Linked DNA regions of Homo sapiens: region 1 is linked to region 2. Evidence: fine-mapped expression QTL. Tissue or cell type: thyroid. Region 2 holds a variant in brackets; the other region holds the start of a gene. All regions are shown on one strand. Distances are from middle to middle.

Region 1 (8,341 bases), 63 kb after region 2:
ACCTGAAAGTATATGTAGGCACTAATATGTTTTTATTATGCAGTCACAAGTTTAGGAGATATTCACTGAGTTTAACACTAATTGAGGCCTTACTATAGACTATTTCAAATAACATAGAAAAGATGATGCATCTTACCTGACCCATTTATTGTGCTTGATTTTTGGATTTACCATCAACTATCACATAAATACTTTATCCAAAAAATGGATGTGTAACCCCAACCTAAATTATTATCATAATGTGCTTCCCTGAAAAGAAAATATTATAAGATTTTGGGGACATCTTAAAAAGAATTAAAATCAGTAATCTATTCTTTGCCATCTACATTCAATCAGGAGAAAGGCAACTGTATTATTACATGTTGGAAGATCAGTTTTAATGCACCAAAGAATGGTCTTGAACTATGTGACATTTTATTTTGAATGCATTTAAATTTTTCTATTTTGATATTTTGTAAATCTAGTGTACTGGCTACTGTTGCCAAGGAAATATGACTTTGGGTTACTGAATGGATCTGCAAAGGTTTTTGTTTTTCTTTTAAAATATTAACAAGACAAAAATGGAAAGATCAAATATGGAACACAAATTTAGCCCTTTCTCTCTTCAAAGTGCACGGAATACAGATCTTCTTACACACCACTGATTAAAAAATACAAAGATGCATGAAGTGATTTTTCCCAACTAGTGTAGAGACTTTTACCCAATTAGCCAAGTTGATATCATCAGAGTACCTGTCTCATTCTTTGTTCTGGATTCAGACCACTCTGAAAATGTGTGGTATTGATTACACACAACACTGACGGCTCATCTTCAATAAGTTCATCTCTAAATGAAAAGATCCTTTCTTTATGTGGATAAAGGTAACATAATGTTCTAGGGTGTTACATTTCAAAGAATTTTCGAAGTGAAGTCAGAAGAAGGCATAGTGCAAACCTTATAAATGTGTTCAGTATTAATTCCAAAAGATTCAAATACATATGAGAATAAAGATTCCACCATTAACCCATTTTTTTTGGTCTGTGATTGTTTCTTATAGTCAGTATAACCTCAAGGTTTTAAGTCATAATAATGGGCTTGAATAATCTAATTATTTAAAAGAATCAAAGCTTTTTTCTATTGTTTTGGAATATTACATAAAACTTCTCTATAAACAGATAACATCTTTACTTCCTACTAACTGAAATGAGGTATTTTTAATTAGAAATACACAAGCAGATTAAGTATACTTTAGAACAAACACCTTTTAATTAAAACCTCTAAAACCAGAGTCCCCTTAAGACAAACCAATAATTCACCAAAATGTCATGTTGCTACTGGAGACTTGGAGATAAACAGGAAGTCTTTTAATTTCTTTTTACACTTAAGAAACAACTCAGAGCAACTATTTTCAAAGAAATATTTAGGAATTTTAGTAAAGCAACTATCTCAAACTGGGAAGTCACTGTACCGCATCTGTGCCTTCTCCCAGTCAAATATGCTGGGCCTGTGTCTGGGAGAATAAAAATAAGGTTGACCACTCACAGGAAAGGCATAAGTTTGATGGCCATGGGAGTTTTTACTTGTTAACACATAAGTAGAGGTTTGGTTCAATTATAGGCAATCTCTTCTCACACAATCATACAAAACTGCCCAGGATTAAACATCTACTATTGCTATAGACCAATATATCCTTTTATGTAATGTTAATGGAAAAGTCACCTCATTCTGATGTGTTTTGAGTTTGATCCTCTAAAACCATAAGAATCTTCCCATGAGAGATAGTTGAGAAAATGTTGGCCTTTATTAGTATGCACTATTAACACAGGTGTTCTGACTGCATTTTCCAACCCTCCCTCTATTTTATGCACCTCTCTACATGTGAGAACTTTTGACTAACTCTGAGTCCTGACCTGCCAGAGTGACTTTGTCAGTCTCTCTTTAAAAATGGGCAGGTGAATGAGTTCAGCCTAGAAGCAGCAGCTCGGTAAGGGAAATGAAAATATCAGAAGTTATCTAATCACAGCCATAGCCATGCTGAGCTTCATCTTATCTTTTGGTTAATAAAAAGAAATGGGACCTTCCGAAACTTGAAGGGCATCAAATTAAGTTTTTGCTTGCCTCTGGCTTTTTGGGGGATATGCTATGTGGTTTAACCAGCATATACTAACTACAAAAATTGACATGGATTCAAAACACCTGTGTCATAGGACGGTGGGTGTTTGTTTTTTTGTTTTGTTATAAAGCAGAAAATAAAACACAAAGGCCTTTGAGAACAGGGATTGTTAAGGGAATAGAAGAGTATGGAGAAAAGAACACTTTATTTGAAGTTAAGGTAATTGTGTACGCCTGTGTATGTGTGCGCGCGGGGGCGCGCGAATGAGCAGGATTTAGTTTCATTTAAAGATAACATATTAAAGTATCTTGGACAGCTCAAAAGTGCTGTTCAGGAAACAAAACCAAGTGAGCCAAGAAAAACCAGAACAGTGCTTTTAAAATCCCTGGCAAAGCAGCAAGAGGATGAAGAGTTGGTTTTGCATAGTTTTGAACACAGGGTGTAAAGGTGCTGAGGCATCTTTTCCCACAAGTCACTGAAATCCTGTGAGAGTGTGTGAGTGTGTGTGTGTGTCTGTGTGTGTGTGTGTGTGTGTGTAGAGGGAGAGGTTCTCAGATGTCTCTCTTGCAAAGCTTCCCAGAGCACTCTCGCTTCCCTAGCCCCCTCCCGCCTCACTCTGCTCACCTTTCCCCCCTCCACTTCCCAACCACCCACATCAAGCCCTTCATAGATTTGCGCCCCTTGGATCATCTCTGCCGCCTGTGACTTTCCCTGGAGCCTAGCAGGTTCTGGGGCTGAAAGGCAATCCGCCAAGGCGCCCTGGGGCGCCGTCAGATTTGGAACATAGAATGGGAAATAGGGCCTTAAAGCCCACCTACTCCAAGATGAAGGAGGAGCATTTTTCATCAGGGTTTAGCCTGCTCCTCACCGGATGGTAATCAGCACTCGCTTGACTTGGCGTGGACCACCTCCTAATTATCTCCATTGGATTCAGCCCTAACAGTTCTCGTGTGTCTGTGATACCACGCGGGGTCGTGATCTCCTTACTCAGCTGTGGCTTGGTTTCAGTGGTCCCTCCAGTCCCGTCCCCTGTCCCCGTCCCCCTTTCCTTCTGGCTACTTTATTCCATAGAGGAAGAAGCGCTGAAGGACTACGTTGAATCAAAGCACTTGCAAGCCTATTCATTAGTTTTTAACACTGAGAAGAGGCAACTAAAATATTATTAGAACCTCATTGTAAGAAGTGTGGGGGAGGAGGTTGAGAGGCTGAATCCAACCGCAGCCAGGTCAAGCCATTGGAAGGGACTACAATGTCCCACAGCTTTCTCACTGTCAGAGAGGAAGCTGCAACTTCAGCCAGAACTCCCTTCCCCTCCCCTTCCCCGATTTTGAAAACCGTACCCCTTCTTCCGCCTTCGGGACTTCCCTGACCTATCCCTCACCCGTGCCATGCTGTCCCCTCCCCTCCGCGGTCTTTCTCCCCAACTCCATTCGCCCCACCCCACCTGGGCGAGTTGGGTGGATGTCAGAAGGCGAGAGGTAGGGGATGGAAGTCCCTTCAGATTAAAGACGTTGCTTGCTGCTGCTTTTTAAAACAACAACAGCAATGACAAACGTGCAAAGGTGAGCGAGAACCAGTGCATCTCAAAAGTTGGTCTTGCTACGCAGCAGCTCCAACAGACTTTGCAATCACAGCGCCCCAGGAACACAGGAATGAAGAGTTGGCATTTACTTACCTGGGTGTGCCAATCTCGAAGAGTGGAGAGAGAATTCAGCCCGGGACGAGGTCTGTCCCGCCCCCAGGATGCAAAATCCGGCTTTGAAGTGGAGGTGGTTGGTGTGGTAGTTTTGTACTGATGTAAGGGGCGTCGCACCTCCTTCCCCTCTCGTCCTCCGAGGTCAGTTTAGCAACAGCGGCTGGGAAAGGTGCTGAGAGCAGAGTTCGGTCTCTCCGGAAACCCTGACTCCATTCTCGGTGATGGGGGTGGGGGAAGAGGGTGAAAATGTTGGAGATGTCAGGTCGGCTCTCAGTTAACTCGGAGAGTAAAGAGGAGGGTACTGAGAAAAGAGGGAGGGAGTGGAGTGGAGCGAGGGAGGAAGGAAAGGAGGGTGGCAGAAAGAGAAGGGGACGAGCGGGTGGCGGGGAGATGGCAGCTTCTCACAGAGAGATTTCCACCTTCTGACGAATCCCATGCACCCAGCAACCCGGCAAGAGACTGGTTCCGAAACCTCCGCGCGAGCGCCCCCTGGGGGTTGCTGACGGAGACGAGCATTGCCCCGGGAACCCGAGCTCAGGCCCCGCCCAGGCCTTGGCGGCGGCGCTCTCCGTGGTCCTGCCGCGCCCGCAGTCTGGGCTTTCTGCTCAGCTTTGTCGCTCAACTGAGCTCCTGGGGACACTTGATTTAGATCTCCAAGTGCTTGGTCTCCATCTCCACTCTAGGGTGGAGCGGTCGTATCGCGGCGCGGGTGTGGGGGGAATGGGAGTTACACTTTTTGGCACTCACCAAAGAAAACTTCTTAGATGGGTGCTTAACTGTCACCAAAAATGGTAAAGGTGTTGCTAATCTCTGGATCCTTCGTGTCTACAAAACTGTCTGGCGTATGGCAGGAGCCTGGAAATTATTTTTAGTAAGTAATGCATGAGTAAATTAATGGACAAAGAGTATTTTCTTCATCTCATGATGAGTTTCTGAATACATCTACCTCACAAATAAGATAAAGAAATACTTAGGGAGTACTTATGCTTAAAGATAGATATAAATATGCTGTCTTATGTAAGGGGTGACCACTTCCACATGTTTTAAAGCACTTTAGAGAGAAAGTATGGCCTTCCTATTTCAAACTTATTCAAATTCAGACAAATGAACTTATTCAAATACAGGGCATTGTTTCTGATTATGTCTGCTACCATAGACAAACTAGACAACTAAATTCTCTCTGCACATTGGTATTGTCAGACTCACAAATTGGACTTTGGAATTAATGAAGTAAAGTGAATGACGGTCTCTTTCTGACATTGGGATGGTATAGAGTGTGTTACATCTAACGTGGAGGGGAGATGGAAGGTCTTCCTTCTCACCCTATTAAGGGGCTATCTAACAAAGCCTCTCCAACCTGAAGGTTGGAGGAGATATTAGCCAAAATCTTTTCACTAACCATGAAGTTCTCAATTTCAAAGTCCAGAAAAGGAGAACCAATAGGGTAAGGAGGAAGACCCCCTCTTAATTGTTCTATAGAAGTAGACAGAAATATCTTTGATAAACAAAGGGACAACCTTCTGACAGAACACAAATAACATTTTTCTTCTTTCAGTCACCTCTAAAGCCTTTCTGAAATAGGATAACACTAAACATGGACCCTGGAAAGGACCTCAGGGAGCTTCTCTGTACACTGAAACTACCACAGAAATCCTTGGATTTGCTTTGATTGCAAAAACTTGGGTCACATGGCTATGCATAAGTCAATCGTTGTGACCTTTGGATATGGAATTACACTAATGGGCCAGGACTTCCACAATGTCTAGGAGCATGTGATGTCTTCTATAGCACTCCTGGAGCCAGGATGGAGCCCCACCTGATCTACACACATTGCGAGTGAGACACAGGGACAATTCTCCAAGGGATATTCAGGGTCCTCCTACCAGGAAAGGGGAGACGGATGCTAAGCAGGCAAAACCAGTGTATGACTACTAAATATGAAAATGTTAAGTCCAAAAACATTACTTCCAGGTTTTGTTAAGAGGTAGCCTCAGAGATAAACTCAAAATTTGAATTGGATTGAACTTGCAAAGATGAAGGAAGAAGAAGGAAAAGTCATTGTGCATTTCCTTGCATGTTAATTGTATCCTCTAAAATTTAATTTCTATGAAGGCAAGGGATATGTCTGTTTTGTCGTCTTGTTCATAATTATAACCCCAATGCCTAGAAAGGTGTCTACCACCTTCTACATTTATAAAATTAAAAATAATATAAATACCTTAGGGACCATTCAACATAAACTTCTTATATTACAGGTGAGAGAAAAGGAATTAAGATGTGCTGAGCATGTACTATTTCCAGGCAATCTGTTAGGCACTCTACTTACCATCCCATTTAATTTTTACAACAACCTGCCCAAGAAAGTTTTACTATATCTACAAAAATAAATCCAGGGTGTGGGCGGTTGAAATGACCAGACCAGGGAACACAACTAGTTAATGGGAGGATAGGGGTTGTTCATTGAAGCAGTCTCTAAAGGGGCAGCTAGAATAAGTGAACACATGGACCATAGAAAAGAAGTTATAGAGTCAATGCTCATAGGGAAAAAGAAAAACAACATAGTTATCTTTGGCCCTACATGTTAAAAGCATAGATACACAAACTAAACACAATGCCACAACTTGTGACAAATATGGTTTCCTTTGCCAGCAGGCTTCAGCTCCGTAATTAGAAACAAACAGTTGCCTGCATGCCAGTGCGCAGAAAACGTGCAGCTTTATGCCAGAAACTTGGAATTTTTTTCTGAAGGCATGACACTGAAGGTAAATTCAAAGAAGCTTTTTACAGGGCACATAAAGCAGAATTTACTTCCACCTCTTATATGAAATCAACAGCTCATCTGTACAAATGAAGATTTGTAACCAGCTAATAATCCATGTTTTCAATCACTGCCCCCACAGCAAGTTGCCCGCCAGCCACAGTCCCCTCAACAATTGTAACATCAAAATCCCCTTGTCTCTATCACTCACCTCCTCCCAGCTCTCCTTTTAATGGATTCTGAGCTGCTGGGTTCTACAGCCATGGTCAAATTTATCTAAAGCCAAGCCACAAAGTCACTGTGGCCCTGGTGTTCCCAAGTTGCAAAGGAAGCTTCAGCTCTGGGTAGATTCACTCGCCGGGTTTCTGTTTGATAAGATAAGAGGAGGCATCCGCTCAGTGTCTTATGCCAATATGAAAGGCATCTCACCCATCAGTGTGACAAGTGAAATCCTGGAATGAAGCCAGGGAACAAAAGGGAAGAAATGTGGATTCTTACCAATGCAGTTGATACCATTTTTTAAGGGGAGCAGATGATGAAGGGGAAAAACAGGCAGAGAGTCAGTGCCCTGCATCAAAAACCTTGGATCCTTCCCTGAATGAGTCAGGGTGAGCATTTAGTTTTGAAATGGAATTTCTGTTTCCTTTTATTTTCTTTCTTTTTTTTTTTTTTCTGTAAGAACTACTAAAGGAAACTGTTGTAAATAACAGGATATATTTTTGAGGCTGTGGATCATATAAGAACTTTGAATCTCACCCCAGGGCTATTTATAGCTCAAAAATTTGTTCTTTTTTTCTATTTCAAGTGATTTTTGAGAACTGACTGATATGTCTTCCTCTGGTGTTTCTGTATATGCCTGAGGTGTGATGTATTACTGGAAAGCAGAAAGGAACACTCTAAGAAAGCACTTTTTCTAAGATGCTAAGAGTCAAGGGAAAATGAACATACATGTTGCAAGCTGATGCAGGAATTAAATATTCCACTGTCTGTCATTCCTTTTTATGAGAACCCTATACCACCTGTGGTGCCTCTAACATTGGGTAACAACCTGTGCTACGAAAGGGCAGTTTATACTTCTGTCTACCAATAGGTGGCATCAAAATCTCTAGCTTTTCTTTCCTGTATTTTAAAAACCATAGGCAGAGGGCATTTTCTTTCTGAGATTTTACATTTTATCATGAGTGATGTTATAAAGGCCACTAAATAGCTCTGTATAATTTCAGAGCAGATTTTCCTATTGCTCTATTAATGAGGTCTCTCAGTTGTCCCTCTGAGCCTCAGTTTTCTCATTGTAAAAAGAAAGTATTTGGATTGAACTCCAGCTCCAAGATTCTGCTTTTTAACTACATAATATCTTCCCAGACACACCATTTTTCATGCCTATGATAAACCCATTAGCACTCCATTCCTCTGGGCTTAAGGAATATTAGCAAGCAAATATCCCTTGGTTGCAGAGGCTGTTATCTGCCCAGCCTATATTCATTTTTGTTTGTTTTTCCTTACTAAGAAAAACATAATTTTGTGGAGGGTAGCAACGTGTTTAGCTCCAAACCTTCATTTTCCAGCTTTTCTTGCAGATGGGGTAGTGATGTGATTAAGGTCTAGCCCTGCACTATTTATTGTGGTAGCCACTAGACACATGTATCTATTTAAATTTAAATTTATTAAAATCAAGTAAAATTAAAAGTTGATTTTGTCAGTTCCACAAGTGACATTTTAAATGCTAAACAGTCATAAGTGGCTAGTAGCTAACATCTTGGATAGTTCAGATATAGAACATTTCTATCATTGCAG
Region 2 (8,341 bases):
ATCTACAACCATCTGATCTTTGACAAACCTGACAAAAACAAGCAATGGGCAAATGATTCCCTATTTAATAAATGGTATTGGGAAAACTGGCTAGTGATATTCAGAAAACTGAAACTGGACCCCTTCCTTACACCTTATACAAAAATTAACTCATAATGGATTAATGACTTAAATATAAAACCTAAAACCATAAAAACCCTAGAAGATATCCTAGGCACTACCATTCAAGACATAGGCATGGGCAAAGACTTCATGACTAAAACACCAAAAGCAATTACAACAAAGGCCAAAATTGACAAATGGGATCTAACTAAACTAAAGAGCTTCTGCACAGCAAAAGAAACTGTCATCACAGTGAACATGCAACCTACAGAATGGGAGAAAATGTTTGCAATCTCTCCATCTGACAAAGGTCTAATATCCAGAATCTATGAGGAACTTAAACAAATTTACAAGAAAGAAACAATCCCATCGAAAGTGGGCAAAGGATATGAACAGACACTTCTTTAAAAGAAGACATTTATGCGACCAACAAACATTTGAAAAAAAGCTCATCATCACTGGTCATTAGAGCAATGCAAATCAAAACCACAATGACATACCATCTCATGCCAGTTAGAATGGCAATCATTAAAAAGTCAGGAAACAACAGCTGCTGGAGAGGATGTGGAGAAATAGGAACACTTTTTTACACTGTTGGTGGGAGTGTAAATTAGTTCAACCATTGTGGAAGACAGTGTGGCAATTCCTCCAGGATCTAGAACCAGAAATAGCATTTCACCCAGCAATCCAATTACTGGGTATATACCCAAAGGATTATAAATCATTCCACTATAAAGAACATGCACACATATGTTTATTGCAGCACTATTCACAATAGCAAATACTTGGAGCCAACCCAAATGCCCATCGATGATAGACTGGATAAAGAAAATGTGGCACATATACACCATGGAATACTATGATGCCATAAAAAAGTATGAGTTCATATCCTTTGCAGGGACATGGATGAAGCTTGAAACCACAATTCTCAGCAAACTAACACAGGAACAGGAAACCAAACACTGCATGTTCTCACTCATAAGTGGGAGTTGAACAATGAGAACACATGGACACAGGAAGGGGAACATCACACACCAGGGCCTGTCAGGGAGTTGGGGGCAAGGGGAGGGAGAGCATTAGGGCAAATACCTAATGCATGCGGGTCTTAAAACCTAGCTGACGGGTTGATGGGTGCAGCAAACCACCATGGCACATGTATACCTATGTAACAAACCTGCATGTTCTGCACATGTATCCCAGAACTTAAAATATTAAAAAAAAAAGTAATGGCAAAAACTACAATTACTTTTGCACCAATCTAATAAAACACCTTGTTCAAGCTTAAGAGATGCATATGTATTAATCTGTAAGTAGGCTCTTTAAGTATATGTAAGCCTTTTGTAAAGGATATTTGTCTCTTAATTTTTAGCATATAATAAACTCTCAAGGACACTTGAGGCTGTTTTCTGATTTTTTTTCTTTCTTCTCACTGACTAAGAACAGTGCTCTCAACACAGTGGAGACTCGGTAACTTACCAACCATCTTGGTGCACTTCAGAGCACAGGTCTAAGGGGCAGCAGGGTGCTTTATAGATTAAAGTGACTCCAAAATACAAATAAAATTATTAAATTCTCTTCACTGTCCTCTCTAGTTCCTAAATGACATGTATATGCTTGGTGAGCATCATGTCAAATAAAACAAAACAAAACAAAAGCATGCACTTTGAAATCAGACCTAAGGACCTCAGTTCCAGGCTCTCCTCCTCAATTACCAGCTGTGTAACCACAGACAAGGTGCTTGACCTCTGTAGGCCTGTCTTCTACCTATATAATGGATTTTGTCAGAATTGAATGAGACATGCCTAGCAAAGTGTCTGCTCCATAACAGATGCTTGTGTTCATAATTGGTGCTGTTTACGAAGGATTTCCAGCTCTGTCCTCTTCCAGTCAAACTTCCCTGCCCTCTGAAATTTGGGTATAGAGCCATATGACTTGCTTTGGCCAGTGAAATGGAAATACGAGTCATCTGTTTCACTTTGAGAATCAGTATATGAGCTGCCATTTCCCTTTTCTAATGCTCTAGAGATAGTGGAATCACATGTTGAGATGAAGCTTCACTTATCTGTGTCTCTGCATAACTTCAGTGAGTGAAGACACACCAACCCCCACACAGATACCAACCTAACTTTGACCTGTAGCCAAAGCAAGACATGAGCTTTTCTTGTACAAGTCACTGAGATTTGGAGCTTATTTGTTACAGTGATATAATCCAGTGTATGCTGACCAATACAGTGCTTAATAAATATTAGCTCTTTTTCCCCATTAAGTCTCATTAGCTGCACATTTCCCTCTTGCATTTTTTTCTTAGAAATTGGTCTAATCCCAAAGTTTGTTCTGACATGAATGAGTTTGTTTCCTTGATGGGGCATTTGGGCAAGAAGCATATAATTTATATAGTTTTTTTAAATTAAACTTTTATTTAAAGGCAATTTAAGGGGATGGGGTTTATAATCTTTCCTTATGCTGCACTTTCTAGGTCCTCTAGAGCTACTGCTTTTTATCACTTTTTCCACTTCCATATATCAAAATACCTCCAGAGTTAAACAGCTTCACATTAGATTTCATGATCTAGCTAGATCACTTATCATAGAAATGGAAGGTTAAAGTTGTATTGTGAATATATGTATGTGTAGGGGTTAGTGGAGGATTGTTGTTACTTCCCATTATTAATGTAGATATAGAATGAACGGATCATCAATCTGAGAGGGTAGCAGCATTTCCCAATTATCTGTTGCTGCCTAACAAACTGCCCCAAAACGTAGTGGGTTAAAACAAAAACCATTTAATTTTATCTCATAATTTTTGTAGGCCAGGAATTTGAGAAGGATCAATTCTCAGATCACTAGATCATCTGCTAGATGATTCTTCTGTTCCATATGGCATAGATGAGGTCACTCAGCGGTGTTCATCTGGCAGCTAGAAAGATCTAAAGAGTCCAAGATGGTTACAGTCACATGTCTGACGCCGTGGGGACAACATCTAGAAGGCAGAGCTCAGCTGGGTCTGTTAACTGGAGTGCTGACACGGTAGTTTCAGGGTAGTTAGATTTCTTACAGGGTGGGTCAAAGGTTAAAGTTCCCAGAGAGAATGTTCTAACACATAATATGCAAGACTTCTTATGACCTAGACTTGTAAGTCCTAGAACATCACTTCTACTGAATTTCACCAGTCAAAGAAGACCAGTAAAAGGCATCCAGCTCTCACAGAAGGAACGGTAATTCCATGTCTCAATGAGAGTACCAGCAAACATTTGGAACTATCTTTTTTATACCATAGAACCACAATCTCTTCAACGCTTCTCTGATTCCCTAAGATATCATTAGGTCCAAAAACTCCAGTCACTACGTTAACATTTAACAAGCAAAAAGTAATTCCTTTACAAGTTTAAATGCCTTCCTTTTTGCCCCAGAGGGTTATCTGAACTCATTTACAAAACTTTACTGTGCTCAATATTTTTCTTGGCCCTTCAGTTGCACTCTCTACCTTTGCTATATTCCCTGGAAGTCTGGTCTCTAAGGGTACCTTGCCCTTAGGTTTCCATCTGGGGGCAGTCAATGGGGGACACTGGCAGGGAAGCAAAGACCAACAGGAGAGTGAGCAAGACCATTGCCCTTCAGCTTCCAAGTCACTGTAGTTGATCCCATTCCTGTAGCTGAGCTAAGGCCACAGCCCCAGGCAGGCATGCCCCTCTAGAATGACAGCTATTTTCTCTAGTCCCAACAATTTCCCTCTCCCCTTGTTCCTTCAGACTTACATATGATTTGCCTTTGTTTCTCTTGCATTTAGCTCAGTGTCTGGCACTTGGTAGGTGTTTAATGAATGTTTACAGAAAGAACTGTTGGATGAGTGGGTAAATGAGAGAATGGCAAAGGACATACATTTAAGAGAAGAAAATGTTCATGGCAACTGAGTGTCAGGATTAGGATTATAAAACTTCTTATCTTCTATCCTTTAGAGAGAGAGGGAAAAAAAAAGAAAAATCAACAAAAAGAAATACCTATCTTCTCAGAAGACAGTAAATGCTGTTCTTTCAGAGACGCTGAAGCCAATGAAAATACTAAGGGTTACACATCAACACTCCCTTGGCGCACAAAGGTCTCACTGGCAGCAACAAGTACATACTTCTGTATGACTGAAAGTCTATAGTTCTCTGCCCGATGAATTCCTCAAGTTCAGCTAGCCAACTTGGAGCCTCATCATAGCACT[T/TAA]ACAAGCAGAGTTTCTTTGTATGAGGTAAAGTGCAGAGAGCTAGAACAAATGCCAATCCCCAGTGATCTTTTGTCCCCTTTCAAATAAACAGATGGCATTATTGGGAACATGGAATTCTGGTCTTTCCTGTTGGAATTTCAAAAGAAAAACATCGGGCCCCCAAGGAAGCTGCTGCTCTCATGGAACAAACGGTGCCCCTCACATCCGAGAAGAATCATTCAACAGTGTCAAGGGGCTAAAAAACCCATTCCTACAGCTCACAACAGGACCTAGTTGAAGACACAAAGGGAGAAGGCCATATGGTACAGAGCTCTAAATGGCTCTATTTTTAAGGTAGCTCTGAACTGGGCCAGAAGTGATCTAGGCTCTCATCCTGCATTTGTTCTTCCCTCCCTAGCTGACCTCAGGCAAGCTACTCATGTTTCTAGGATTCTACTTCCTCCTCCATAAATGGGAAGGCTGGACCAGATGTTCCCAGTGAACTTATCTCAGATCTGCCATTCTGAAATCACAAGTCTCAAAGCGTGGCAACAAAGCACTAATACAATCGGTTTTACTCCTAATCTTTCTCTGAAGTCCCAGCTTTCTCATATATTTTTTTAAAAGAATTGGAGCATACAAAGGTCTACAACTAGCTTAAGTCTCACCTTTTATTTCATCAATGTACATACACCCCTTAACTCACCTTTTTGGCCCTAAAAATCCCAACTGGTTGTAACAGCAGAGTGGGATTTAGCATAAACTCACAGTGTGTGTGGTGACCTGGAAAAAAGTCATTTTGTACAACGGATCTGTGGTATCATAGCCATCTTAAAAGATAATGAAACCTGAGTTTAAAGGAAGAAAAGAAAGGCTGGAGATTTTCAGCTGTGTTCAAAAAGATTTTTAGGTGATCTTGAAAGAATTCCTGTCATTTCAAAGTTCTACCAAGCCTCTGTTCTATGGACTGTTTCTTCTCCCCAGAGTCCATCTATGTAGGGTGCAAAAAAAATGTCAATTTTTTCCCAAGAAGAATCAATGTAGTAATAATAATAATAGAAATATGTGATGATGATGATATCTGATATTTCTATAGCCTCTGATATGGATCAGGCATGATTCTAAGTGCCTTACATATATTGATTAACTTATTCTTCAGCACAGCTTTTAATGATAGATACTATTATCATCTCCATTGGCAAACAAGGAAGCTGAGAATCAAAAAGTTTAAGTAATTTTTTCAAGGTCTCCCAGCAGAGCTGGTGGCAGAGCTGGTATTCAAACCCAGGCAATTTGATACCAGTATTAATGTTTTCAACTCAGTATACTGAATGACTTCTCCCACATCAAAATGTATCCATTCCAAAGAAATCTGGAAAGAATGTTTTGAACAGTTATAGCAGTGGAAGAATGGGCATGAATTTTTATCTCTAAGGTCAATTTAATTTGTTTATCTACTTAACTATTACCCAGGAAGAATAGGAATAACGTCAAAAGCATTTATCTTGTCAAAAACATAATTGGTTTGCCAAGCGTAACGTTATTTTTTACCCTAAGAATAGAGCAGATTGTCAAGCCACAAAGTCTGCATTCCTGGGCTCCTTACCCTATTTGAAAAATGTTATCCCAAACTGCAGTCCCAGACCAGTTTCTTTGAATCACCATGGCAACGAGAGTCAATAGAGATACCTCCATGTAAATTTACAAGGGAAGGGCTGTCATTAAAATCCTGTTTGTGGTAGAAAGGAGGTATTTGGACAGAATCTGTCCTACCAGAGACTTTTCATTCTAAAAAGGGAAACACTCTTGCTTTTGTCAGAACTTTCTGTTCTCAGGTCTTAATACATTAGTTTCTTTTTTCTCTCCCTGGAAGAGGTTAATGAAAGTCCTTAATTTCTATTTTCCTTCACAATGGTAATTGTAAAATGTCTTGTGCACATATATGTGTACATATGTGTTATGTGCATATGCCTGCATCTATACACACATGTGCATGTATGTATATACGCATCTACAGTGAATGCACATGTATATACATACAATGTGCACATACACACACCTAATACATGCATGCACATATGTACTGACTTCCCAACTCTCCTTGTCATAGCACACTCAGCTTAAATGACTCTAACAGATGACCTGCTTGTCTGGAAGTAAATTCAGCTGAGAAAAGATACCAAGCAGCATCTACCTTCTCTGCCTGTAATGAGAAAAGGGCCAACTCAAATGTGATCTGATTCATTAAGGTTACCATTCACAGAAAAGTCTCTGCTTGCTCCTCCCTGCCTCCCATACTCTGTGAACAGGGCCAAGCCTATCTGCCCATTGTTTCTCTTGCCACCTCAGACTGTTCAAAAGGGATTAAAGAAAAAGAGATGGGCTGGGCCCAGTGGCTCACGTATGTAATCCTAGCACTTTGGGAGGCTAAGGCAGGTGGATTGCTTGAGCTCAGGAGTTCGAGACCAGCCTGGGCAACATGGCAAAACCCTGTCTCTACAAACAGTACAAAAATTAGCCCGGCGTGGTGGTGCACACCTGTAGTCCCAGCTGCTCGGGAGGCTGAGGGGGGAGGATGGCTTGAGCCTGGGAGGTGGAGGTTCCCATGAGCGGAGATTGCACCCCTGCACTCCAGGCTGGGTGACAGAGCCAGACCCTGTCTCAAAAATCAAATAAATAAATAAGTAAAGAGAAATAAAGACAGAGAACCATCAAATTTTTTTCAAAATTCGTATTATTCATTTTTAACAATGGCTTTAAAACCGTCATCAAATTGAGATTGCAGCCTCAGGGGAGTTGGCAAAACCTATCCTGCAAGAGAGAACCGCCTGTCAAATTTTAACTAGGTTCTGGGGCTTTTAAATGTCCCTTTCAACACTAAGCCTGCAAGTTAAGAGAACCCAGTCAAAGTCATGAGGAGAAACAGGAAGCGATAAGAAAGTCAGCCTCCAGGCAATATAGGACAGAAGCACAGGTTTTCATGGTGTGATAGAAAAACCCCGGTTGGCAACTTGAGTGAGTTACCTGGGCATGAGAATGACTTCTCCTAGCTGCCTAGTCCTTCTACTTTGGGAATGGGGAGGATTGGATTCATTTACCCGAGGCTTCTCCCATTGCTATCAGCCTAGGCTTCTATGAAAACATTCTAAAACTATGACAAGCCCTGAGTGCAGCTGGCTCTAACTTCTTCAGCATAGTTCACCTCATATCCAGGGAAATCTACCCACACTGCTTCTGCAGGCCCTGAATGCCTACACTGCAGAAATAAACACCGTGACATTTACACCTATGGAGGGAAATGAAAGGTGACCCTGAAAAGAATCAGGTAATTTTGTACCAGTTGCTATCCTAAGGGACTTTGTAAGGTAGGGAAATCAGAGTATAGGCTGAAGTTCTTAGCACTTCTGTTTGTGTATTCGAATCATAAACATATATATGCATGCATAGATATGTATGCCTAGTGTACGCAGAACTTATCCAACAAATATATCAGGTTATGAGGAAATGACATGCAAATAAGGATGACCATCACATCATGGCTTGTAACAGTGAAATAAACAAACATAATAAACAATAAATTAAATAATTTAAATGTCCTCTGATACGGTGCGGTAAAATAGATAACATATCCATACTATGCAGTTGTGACAAAGATTAAAGTAGACTTATGGATGCTGATATTTAAAAAAAAACTATAGGACTTTTTTTAAAACTTAATAATCTGTCAATATTGTTGGTTTTTTTTTTTTTTTTAAAGAATGCACTCTCATTCTTTTCTCCCTCCCTCAACCTCCTGTAAAACATTCTACCTTAAAGTGTTTCTAGAAGGGTCACAGTGGTATTAATGATTGTATATGGGAAAGAAGGCTAGGGTCAGAAGCCTGGGCTAGGAGTGAGACTTACTTTTGTAGGGTTTAATTTTTTTTTTAATACTTAGACCATGGCTTATTTTTCCAATTAAAAAATAAGTTTGCTTCATATAAAAACAAACAAACAAATGAAAACACAACAGCAACAAAAACTTTGATAAAGTTCACCAAAGCTCTTTTCCCT

The links.
Region 1: CPNE4 starts here. The variant in region 2 is fine-mapped to the expression of CPNE4 in thyroid (GTEx, PIP 0.98).

What each region holds. Positions count from the first base shown.
Region 1 is chr3:132,030,799-132,039,139 of GRCh38, forward strand. CPNE4 (copine 4) reads right to left here and starts at 4,216. Exons shown (of 16, transcript NM_130808.3): 1 at 3,769-4,216. RefSeq lists an enhancer at 3,796-3,965 and a silencer at 4,341-4,440.
Region 2 is chr3:131,968,057-131,976,397 of GRCh38, forward strand. The region is part of intron 1 of CPNE4 (copine 4); the gene reads right to left. Among named protein-coding and RNA genes, the nearest start is that of MIR5704, 14 kb to the right of the region's middle. The variant T/TAA (reference allele first, on the strand shown) is at 4,309.